Regions from separate parts of the Homo sapiens genome. Here region 1 is linked to region 2. The links come from fine-mapping of genetic effects on gene expression. A gene starts in region 2. The other region holds a variant in brackets. All regions are shown on one strand. Distances are between the middles of the regions.

Region 1 (5,375 bases), 25 kb after region 2:
TATTTTTAAAGAATGGACTCCTATTTCATTTTCCACATGGCAAGTATGTTATCCTCAGTAACAGACTAAGGTCTTTGCATGAATTATTAAAAATCCAGGGCAGAAAACTCTAGATAACTGCTTCAATTTGTCGATAGAGATGCAACTTGTGACCAGACCAAGAAGATTAGAGACAAAAATCAAGCAAAAAGAGATTCTATAGCACAGCTCTTAAAAACAACAGGCCCGTTGGCTACTTCAAACACTAACTCTCCCACCTATTAATTGCATCACCTTAAGCAAGCTTCTAAACTCTGCTCTGTGACGCAATTCCCTAGCCTGTGAAGTAGCACTGGTGTGGTCACTTATAAACCCTCCCTCCTGAGAGCATGACAAACTCCAGTATATACAGTAAGCACACAAGGCAAGGACTCTATAAATATTCTTTATTGTTAAAGCTCAATTACTTGTGAGGTAAGTAGGAGAGTTGTGTAGGATTGTGAAAGGGCTTTGATTTTTGGTGCAGACAGTCCAGAGTTTAAAAGTTGTTTCTCCCACTATCTGATCAGAGGCTCCGGAAAAATTAAAGCTTCTATACTTTAGTTTTCTAAATTAGTAAAAAGGTAAAATGCTGAGGATGAAGTCAACCTCCAAGGAGCAGTTTTAGTCGTTAAACAGACTGGTCAAAAGTTAAAGGATTAGTGCCTATTAGTGCCTTTCTCCTTTTCTCCTTCATCAAATAGTAAACTGGGAAGAGCTAAAGCAGAGATCCATAGATCTCAGAAGACGTGAGTGCATGCAGGAACGGTCTGCTTCTCATTCTTCATGTCAAATGAGAGACCAAGAACAGAGGAGGAGCTCATGCAGGCCCAGGCATGTTGCCCGGCACTACGCAGATATAATAACTCACCTTATTACAGGAGCCCTACAACACAACCCTCGTGAGATCACACAGAAGGTCTAAGTCATTTTGTTTGTCTCCTGCATGGTTCTGATGCCACAAATTATTAGGCAGTTCAACTGTAGATTTGCCAGCACTCCCCAGTCACACTCGTTGATGTGCCATGAACCTGCATGGAGAAGAGACATTCCTGAACTGTGATACAGAAGAACACAGGGCTGATTTGCAAGATCTTTTCTATCCACCGTATGCTTTCTTCGAGTCATATTTCTGTGGATTTGAACAAAGAGCTATGCACTGCCCTTGAACCCTTGATGGTGATCATCATCCGTGTCTTATTTATGTCTCTATTTCCAGGAAGAAACCCAGGGCCTGGCACATCACGGGTTTGCAATAGCTGCATGTCTGCCTGTCATTTTCCCTGAGCCTCCTCGGTTCTATATATATTTTTGCTGATTTTGTGCATATGTTGGAAAAACCCTAGAGAAGCAACAGAAAAGCACTGTTCAGCTTCTCGCTGATGTTCTGACCACGTGATCATGATCCTACACTGGGCCATGTGACTGAACTGGTTCTTTTACCTCAGCAAGTCTAATGGCAGCTGTTTGTTAAGTGCCTCCTCTCTGTCTAACGCACTTTACATGGGTTGCTCCATTTAACTGTCGCAGCCTTCTGAAGGAAGCGGTGATATAATCATCCCCATTTTACACATGAGCAAACCGTGGCTTGGGGCAGTGCATTTGCCCAAACTCACACAGTTAGCAAGTACCTGAGGCACCTGGACGAAGGAGCTGCCTTGTTTCCACTTTATTGCACAGGTTCCGTCATCTTATTTAATCTTCACAACAGCCCTATCAAGTCGCTGTTATTATCCTAGTCATAGATGGGGCAGTGAGGGAGGCTTATACACGATAGGCTGGAATTGGTACCCAGATCTTTTCACCTGAAAGCTTAGAATCTTCCATGCACCCCTCGTGGGCTGCTGTGATGAACTCCTGGCCAGGACACACGTGCCTCATGGCCTGAGAAGAGCTCACCACAGCCATCTCCACAAAATAGAATGAGAGAAGTTCAGCGCTGGAGGGAGCATAGGCGATCATACATTCAATCCCTTTGCATTAAAGATAAGGAAACAAATTTTTAAAAATGCCCAGTCTCCTGAAACCCACTTTCCATAAGGAGAAGAAAATAGAACTATATGAAGAAAGGCCAAAGATGGAACTTGTTGGTCTAAAATAGCAGTCAGAAAAGCCCAAAGCCTATCTTTGCTATGGCCCAAGTTAAAAATGGTTTTTATATTTGTAAAGGAATTAAAAACAAGCAATCAAAAAAGACGAAGAAGAAGAATAATCTATGACGGAGACCTGATGTGGCCCACAGAGTCGAAAATCTTCACTCTCTGGCCTTTCACGGAGAAAGGATGCCGACTCCCGATCTGAGCTATGGCTGCGTGTTAGAATGTCCTGGGGAATGTTTTCCAACAAGCCCATCCCCTTTTTAAAAAAATTAATAAAAAAATAAAAACAAAAGCAGAACAAACAAAATATATGCCTGTGCCCAAGTCCAGCTGGAACCAAGCAAATCAGCATCGCTAGAGATGGCAGCCCAGGTGGTGATGCCACTAAAAGTTCCCGGGTGACAGTAATGCACATCCAGGATGGAGAACAGTGGTCTAAGAAGAAAGACAAATGCCTCTTTAGGAAAAAGTTGCTGTTTTATTTAAGAAAAAGACCTCAGTGGGCCTGTGTGGCTGTGAATGTCAAGGTCCACTGGTTCAAAATGAGAAACGTTTAGAAAAAAAAAATGAACTCTTCTGATCGTAAACAACAGAAACTGTTGCCTGCTCTTGGTGGAGATATTAGACAAAGGAGAAAACACAGAGTGAGAGAAGAGAGGTTTTGAGAGAGAGAGTCGGCCAGGATGTGATGGGGTCAGGCAGGCTCAGGAGAGAGCAGCTCAGGCAGGATGGCCTGTGGTGGATTGGACTGGATTTCTAGTGGTCATTCATAAGTTGTTGCCTGTTCTCTGATGGGGCCACTGTATGGCTCCCAAATGTCAGCAAAGTCTGTTTCTCCAAAGCCTGCGTTGGTGGAGTTTAAAGAATGAGGGGAGCGAGGAGTAAAATGCTGGCTGTGGGCAGGGAACCAATGACGTGGGTGGGCAAGAATCCAGGGGCCCGAGCACCGGCCATGAGAATAAGGGCCTCCTCGGACAGAAGGGGA[C/T]GCTCCCCTTAGGAAGTGGCTTCACGCTTCGGTCACTGCATGTAGATCTTAAAGAAAGGAAATCTCCAGAAGATCGGGGAATGTGGGAGTGGCAGACTCTGGGTTCATGCACAGTAAGCAAACAACTTTCCTTTTTCCTGCAGCTCCCTGTTCCACTTTCCCAACACGTTTCAGCTTCTAGAATCCCTGTCTTTGCTCATATCATTCCCCTGCCCAGGATAGCACCCTTCTCTCAAATGATCAAAAAGACCACTTTGCTTTAAAACCAGCTCAGGCTTCATCCTATGTGCAAGAGCCTTTCTAAGGCCATCTCTGTATTTTCTCAGAAACAAAGGATATATCACTGTTTTTAAGATGTGTTATGTTTATACTTTTATTGGTCTTAACTTACCTATCAATGACACAGGGGCCTTCTCTTATGCCTGGGTTCAAAAAGAGATGCTGAGACAACAAAGGAAGATGCTCGCACCCTCAGCATCCTCACCTGCCCCCTCCTGCAGGCAGGATTCTGCCTGATGGAATCCCAGGTTTGTGAGCCAACACACAATGTTTATGATCAAATCACCAAGAAAGAGGCAGAAGGAGAGAATGAAAGCGCAACCCAATGAGAGCAGCAAGTGCAGAAGGAAGAGAAAGTGTCCAGCCTCATCTGTCTGGGGAAGCTAGGTGTGCATGCAGGGTCAGTGCAAGCATATTTGTTAGTCCCCTGCCACTGAGATGGAGGCCAACAGTTTCTACTTCTCAGAGATTGGCTCCAAATTTCCTATGCAAGATGGCCTTGGAAGAGGCAAACTGGTTGGAAGAGGGGGTTTGACATTATCATGGGGCTCTCTGCAGAAGATGAGAAAATGTCTACAATTTATATCAGAGAAAAATAGAAACAGGTGAAGACTGCTGTGGCTCTCTGAGCCTTTCAAGCAAGGTGATGAGCAGCTGACTTCGTGTAGGGGTGAAGGCCAAAGACTGAGCTAAACAAGTACATGCAAATGTGTTATCAAAACAGGGTGCAGGAGAGACTCTCTTAAGCAGAGGGGCAGAACTGATAGGGTCCGAAAATCTCATCGCAGGGCAGGAACTGCAGATCAGAAGAGGGACAGGAATCCGACGGCAGCATTCTGAGCTGGTTTCTTACAGGCTTCTTCCATGTGTTTTTGTGGACAGCATATGCCCTTTTAAAGACACTAAGCACCAAGAAAGAAGAGCCACAAATACCCGACCTGGGATGGGGCCTTTCTGCACTTTAGCACCAAAATTTTTAAAAATGAGAAACCTGGGGAGAGCAGCTGACACTTGTCAAGGTCTTACACTGCCAGTCCCTCCAGAAGTGCTTTACCCATAATGTCCTTTAATTCTCACCACAGTCAAGTGCTGTGAGTCTTAGATGATCGACAAGACGTGAAAAGAAAGCAAAACAGAGGCCTGGCCTCGGTGGAGCCCAACATCAAAGGCCAGAGCAGAAAGAGTGGTCAAGGGTGCAGGTCAGAAACAGAGGTTGGGCCACAGCTGGCCAGACGTGGTGGGGAAGGCATAGCTTCCTCAGCCTGGAAGAGCACATTCACCCACAGAGTATCCTGAGGTTATCGAAATTCCACAGGAGGCCCAGCGTCCTCTCTCCAAAGACCAACCTCCACTGCTCTTATGATTCTGCACCTATACATCCTATAGGTCCAGAATTCTGAATTAAATGTTTTGCAGCTTCATGAGAAGAGCAGTGGAAAGAATGTGTTTCCTGCTCCCTCTAGCCAGCTTCAGCCTAATCCCGATTGTATTGCCATTCTCCCACGACGGTTCTCACGTCGTTGCGAGGTTGTATCAGCTGAATGACATTCAAACTGTTTGACATGTCATACTAAGGGAAAAAACCATGCCCATGATCCATTTTCCTGTCTGTTCTCACTCCCCAGGAAAAGCAAAATGAGGAGGGGAGGAAGGAGATTGATTAGGCTCACACAGCATCACCGTGGGAAAGAATCCGAGTGTGCGGCACATGCAGGCACATCGAGCTTTGCCAATCACGTTGCCATGCCGGGCCCTGCATTAGAACACTAATTAGAATCCTCAGTAAATATTAGCACTTGACTAGCTTTAGCTTACCGATGCCAAGACTAGTTTCCTAGTAAGGAGTCTTTAGACTTGTGTAATAATAGGACTCTAAGGAGGTGACTTCTGTAAAAACAGGAGTCTATAGGTGGAGAGGGGCACACGAATTACCCAATTGCCTATTAGTCAGCTCCTCATAGTCTCTTAGTTCTCAATTCGATTCTTAGACTTTA
Region 2 (5,375 bases):
CACTCTCCCAGTACCTGCCCTTGTGCATTTGTCATAGGATTAGAAATGAGTAGCCAGCATGCTCATGGCCGTGTATTACAGCATAAATATTCAGAAACTTGCTTTAGACATCACTTACAGATTCTTTCCTGAAACTTCACATAGAACGTACAGAAACACAAGTATTGTGTGAAGCAGTTGTGGGGCCAGGGAGGTGCCCGGGCTTTGAGGGCACGTAGCCTTTGCCATGCAATAGCTTCTGGAATTACACGCATGGCCTGCTCCCCAGCTTCCCCACCAGCAGGGACTGGGGCGTGGACCGGGGATGGAGACTGGGGGTGGGGGTCCACCTGTGGACCTCCGATAGGAGGGAGCTGCTTGGCCCTTCTCTGGCCCATCTCTGGCAGGCAGTTGCTGGACAAACTGCAGAGGTCTCCACCTGCAGCATCCAAGGCACACAGGCTCTTCATAAAAATCCCTTTCTCCTGTCCCCTTCCAATTGGTGGCAGCTGCCACTCAGCATCTTTGGTTTTAAACAGTGAAATGGCTTCCCAGATGTCAGGGGGGAAAATCAGTGCAAGGCCTAGACTCGGAATTCCAAGTCGCCCCATCCAGATAGCTGCACCGAGAAGAGAGAAGACACAGGACCGTTTTGTCGTTTTCATTTCCGTTTTCTTTTACTAGGAAATTGAAATCGGGTTTCTGGTCTCCGCACTACGGGCTCAGAGGGTTCTTTGGTGTTGGGGAGGCATCGAGCCTTTGGTGCTGCACACACCCTAAACCCTGGCTCCACCCGTAGATGCCAAGAGCCCCCTCCAGCTGCGATCGCCAAAAATGTTTCCAGACTTTCCACCTACCTCCAGGGGCAAAATCACCTAGGATGAGAACCACATAATTCAGGGGCGTCCAGTCTTTTGGCTTCCCTGGGCCACATTGGAAGAAGAATTATTGTCTTGGGCCACACATAAAATACACCACACTAGCAATAGCTGATGAGCTAAAGAAAATCATAGCTGAGAAATCTCAATGTTTTTAAAAGGTTTACAAATTTGGGTTGGGCTGCATTCAAAGCCACCCCAGGCCACATGGGCTGCAGGTTGGACAAGTTTGAAATAAGTTATGCTATGGCAAACAATAAGCTGATATTATACAAATATTTTACTTACAAAAAAATAACTACCATAAAAAGATGTACGTGGAGGCGTGTGTGTGTGTGTGTTGGGTTGTGTGGGAAGGGGTGTGAGCATATGTGTGTGTTGAATGTGGGTGTGTGTGTGTTGGGTTGTGTGGGAAAGGGTGTGAGCAAGTGTGTGTGTTGAATGTGGGTGTGTGTGTGTTGGGTTGTGTGGGAAGGGGTGTGAGCATGCGTGTGTGTTGAATGTGGGGGTGTGTGTGTTGGATTGTGTGGGAAGGGGTGTGAGCAAGTGTGTGTGTTGAATGTGGGTATGTGTGTGTTGTGTGGGATATAAGTCTGTGTAATGTGTGTTACATATGATGCATGTGTTTATGTGTGTAGTGTGGGTGTTGGTGTGTGTGTATGTATGTATCTGTGTGTTTACATCTGTGGTGTATGTGTATGCATGTTTGTGTAGTGTGTGTTAGTGTCTGTGTATGTGTGTGGTATCTGTGTATTTTTGTGTGTAGTGTATGTGTGTGCATGTTTGTGTAGTGTGTGTTAGTGTCTGTGTATGTGTGTGGTATTGTGTGTTTATGTGTGTGGTGTATGTGTGTGCATGTTTGTGTGTGGCATGTGTTGGTGTGTGGCATTTGTGTGTTTATATGTGTGTTGTGTGTATGCATGTCTGTGTGTATATGTGTGGTGTCTGTGTGTTTCTGTGTGTGGAATATGTGTATGCATGTTTGTGTGTTGCATGGTGTGTGTATGTATGTGTGTGATATCTCTGTGTTTGTGTGTGTGGTGTCTGTGTATTCATTTTGTGTGTGTGGTGTGCACGTGTGTGGCATGCGTGTGTTTAAGTGTGTGATATATACATACACACGTGTGTGTTTATGTGTGTGGTGTATGTGTATTCATTCTGTGTGTGTGGTGTGCATGTGTGTGGCATATGTGTGTGTACGTGTGTGGTATATACATACACACATTTATGGATGGGGGTGTGTGTGTGTTGTGTGGGATATAAGTCTGATGAGGTAAAGAAGCTCCAGGAGATTCTCTTTGGTTGAATCTCATGCCATGAGACTTGGCTTCTGGCCACGATGGAGTGAGAAGCCTGGACTGACCTTTCTGCCTGGAGCAAGGGAACACCGTGTAGAACCGGCACGGCGCATCTTCCAGACGGCAGTGCCCAGGCTGCTTGGCAGGCACCCCTGCAGGAGGGGTCAGGGAGGTGGGCACCCAGCGGTCCCTCAGCACCCGTCCCGTGTGGCACAGTCCAGCCGCCTCCCAGGGCCGAGGAGGGGAGACGCAGGCTCCTGGGCTGCTCCCACCCAGGCCCCTGGAACAGCGCATCTTCTGTGACCGTGGTGAAGGAAAATCTCAGCCTCTGCTTCCCACCTCCTCAGCCCCTGCCTCAACAGGAAGCCCACAGCGCAAGAGACGCCATTCTAGGGCCAGGAAGGAAGAGCCTCAGACCCTGGAATTGCCATGTACAAACTAGACGTGTATTTATGGTGTGTCTGAATGTACAACAATTTCCTGTTTCGGAGAAAATAGTTCCTTCCTGGAAGGGCTGTTCTGTATTTGCACACTTTTCCCATGTGATTTTGGGGAAAAGTACCTGACTTTCTGTGAATAGACGCACTTTTTCTTACCGAAAATAATGATAGTTTCAATCTGGCTATAATCGTTCATATTCATGATTTTTTTCGGATGTAGAAATCAGCAGTTTTGCATTGTAAGACCTCACCCATCCACCACTCACCGTCCCCACACCCCTGGGAACAGGAGGAACCTCACAGAAGAAGAAGGTGGATTTTACTACCTACTTGCCACACCTCAATCTCTCTGTCTGTAAGCAGAGAGAATACGGTAATAATAATATTAATAATGATAATAATAATACCTTTCTCACAAGTTCGCAGGGAGGGATGAGTTCATGCACATAAAATGCTCAGCCCAGCACAGCTGAGCACACGATTCTCAGCACTATTACTTGCATTCTTGTCACTGAAAGGAAGAGGGAACGGAGTGTGACAGCGCAGGTTAGACCCCCGGCGCAGCCATCCACCTGCCACTTTGTCACAGGGACTCCACGACTAACTGCCGCCCTATTTTCCCATAAGCAGGCAATGGTGATGATAAAATCATTCTCAAAGCTTAGGGAGGCCAGGACCCAACCCAGGGCCGATCAACGCAAAGCCCTTGCTGCTTCCTATCCCATAAAACCCAATTATTTATGAATGTGAACCTAAAGCCGCATCCTAATTTAGAAGGCATGGAGATAACATGGCCAAGCAGCCGCCTCTCCAGGCAGCGAGATGACTAGGTAGGTCCCAGAGCCCTGAGCATGTCCCCTAGAAAACAACTCAAGACAAGTGCATTTGCATGCCTTCTTCTGTCTCTCTGAAATCACTCAGTTATAGTCACTCAGTGTGTGCTCACAAACACTGAGTCTCCCCTACACGTGATGCATTTCAGTACCAGGGCAATTCGAGTGAGAAACATGGCCATAGCCCCCAGCCTCTTGGACTATCAGAACTCTTAGGAAGTACAAGGATTGAAATATGTGGTCTAACAGCAGAGCGGTATTTTTCTCATTGTACCACCTTGTTGTAAAAAATTGCTGGAGCCTGAAGGAAACCACCTATGGGAAGGGTGTGAGTCAATGGTTCCCCACTTCTGCAGAGTTCCTTCTGAGCAGCTCAGAGCCCACCCCGTGTGGACACATCTCTTACCAAGATGACCTTCCCCTAGCGGGAAACGGAGGAATGAGCAGGCGGCACTCACAGTGCCAATTACAGCAAGGGGATTTGCATAGGAGACCTAACTGCCTGTTTCAATTAGGAGCAGCAACTCCCTCCTTCTTCCTTCCCAAGGAGCCAGGAACACCAGGCATGTGGGTTTGGATTTGTCTGGGAGGAGGCATGACTGTGCGCACCAGAGTGAAAGCCTCCCCACTCACACTGCTCACCTGGAGAGAGGCTCAGGGATCCTGGCAGGCGCAATGTTTGAGAAATGCCCAGGCGAAGAAGATGAATGCTTCCTTTCACCGGGCCCTCCCTGGCTTTAACTCTTCTTAGTCCTGTCTCTGGGAGACCCTGGCAGCCCCTCGCAGCTGTGACCTCTCTAAACTGTCAGCCTCAGATTAACTGATACTTCATCAATTTTGCCTGAACTGCATTTGCAACCCGGTCTCAAGAGGACAGCCAAGTGCATCAACGCTGGGCATTAACCCCCCAGAACCAGATTGCCTTCAAAACGAGGGGGACTTTTCCAATATTCTCACAGCGGCCCGGGCAACAAGCCTAGGGGGACTTTGGCCAGAGGGGAGAGAAGGGGCCTCTGATTATTCCTTGTAAATTTTTCATGAGGACATCTGCCCATACTCTGCGCCTCCTCCAGAGCTGCCCTCTCTCTCTCTCTCCCTTCCTCTGTCTCTGTGTTCAGGCCTCTGACAAGGCATGAAAAACGAGAATGATTGGGCCTCAGTCCCCATTAGCCAGGAAGTGACTGATGGGAGGATGGGCGTGTGTGGTGACTTCAGGCTTGGGAGGGGCCGGGGCTGCCGGGTTTTGAAACAAAAGACCAGTCAGGAATGGATGAGTCCTAGGTGGATCTGCAGATGGAGGCTGTGCTGTGAGTAGGTGGCTAAGGTGCACAGATGGTCATGGCTGATAGGCCAGCCTGGCCCGGGCTCCTGGTTCTGCAGACCCCAGCTCTGGGCTGGAAAATCGGTCCCCGCCTCCCCCATCTTCCCCAAGATTGTCCCCGTCCTTCCTCGGGCAGACCTTCACCGTGGAGCAGAAAGCTGCCTACAATATCGCCCAAATCAAAGCCAAGAAGAATTAGAGTGTAGGGACAGGGGAACAGGGAAGTGCTTTTTTAATTTAAATAATAAAAAATAAAAAATAGTCATTCTTTTGGAAATACTAGCAGCTTACAAGCTTTAAAATCCTCTTTCCCAACAGTTTAAATCAAAAGCCAGCAGCCCTTTCTCATGGATGCATCAAATCATGCAGATGTCCTTTTTGTGCCCCCTTTAAGGTGACATGTGCTTCAATTTATTTTTAATCTTCTAAGTGATGTCATCAGGACGCCGCCCGGGTGACACGGGAGGTGGCTGCTCCTGGGGCTGTGGGTCTGGGCAGTGCAAGCTCCACGCGCACTGACCCCATGGGCTCAACCCAGAGTCCACAGTCAGAAACCGGCCCCGGGCGGCAGGAGACGCTGCAGAGGGAGATTCCATAGAAGAGGTAAATTCATTAAGAAACTCATC

The links. PIP is the estimated chance that this variant, and not a neighbour inherited with it, causes the effect. A credible set is the group of variants that fine-mapping cannot tell apart.
Region 1: its variant is the best candidate, but not a certain one, in a credible set for the expression of LINC00487 in caudate (GTEx, PIP 0.86).

What each region holds. Positions count from the first base shown.
Region 1 is chr2:6,793,255-6,798,629 of GRCh38, forward strand. LOC105373404 (a long non-coding RNA gene) reads right to left here and starts at 3,680. Exons shown (of 4, transcript XR_922745.3): 1 at 3,494-3,680; 2 at 890-1,049. The variant C/T (reference allele first, on the strand shown) is at 3,103.
Region 2 is chr2:6,767,859-6,773,233 of GRCh38, forward strand. LINC00487 (long intergenic non-protein coding RNA 487) reads right to left here and starts at 2,453. Exons shown (of 6, transcript NR_038369.1): 1 at 2,221-2,453. It overlaps LOC105373404 (a long non-coding RNA gene), which reads right to left. Exons shown (of 4, transcript XR_922745.3): 4 at 4,965-5,375. RefSeq lists an enhancer at 5,309-5,375.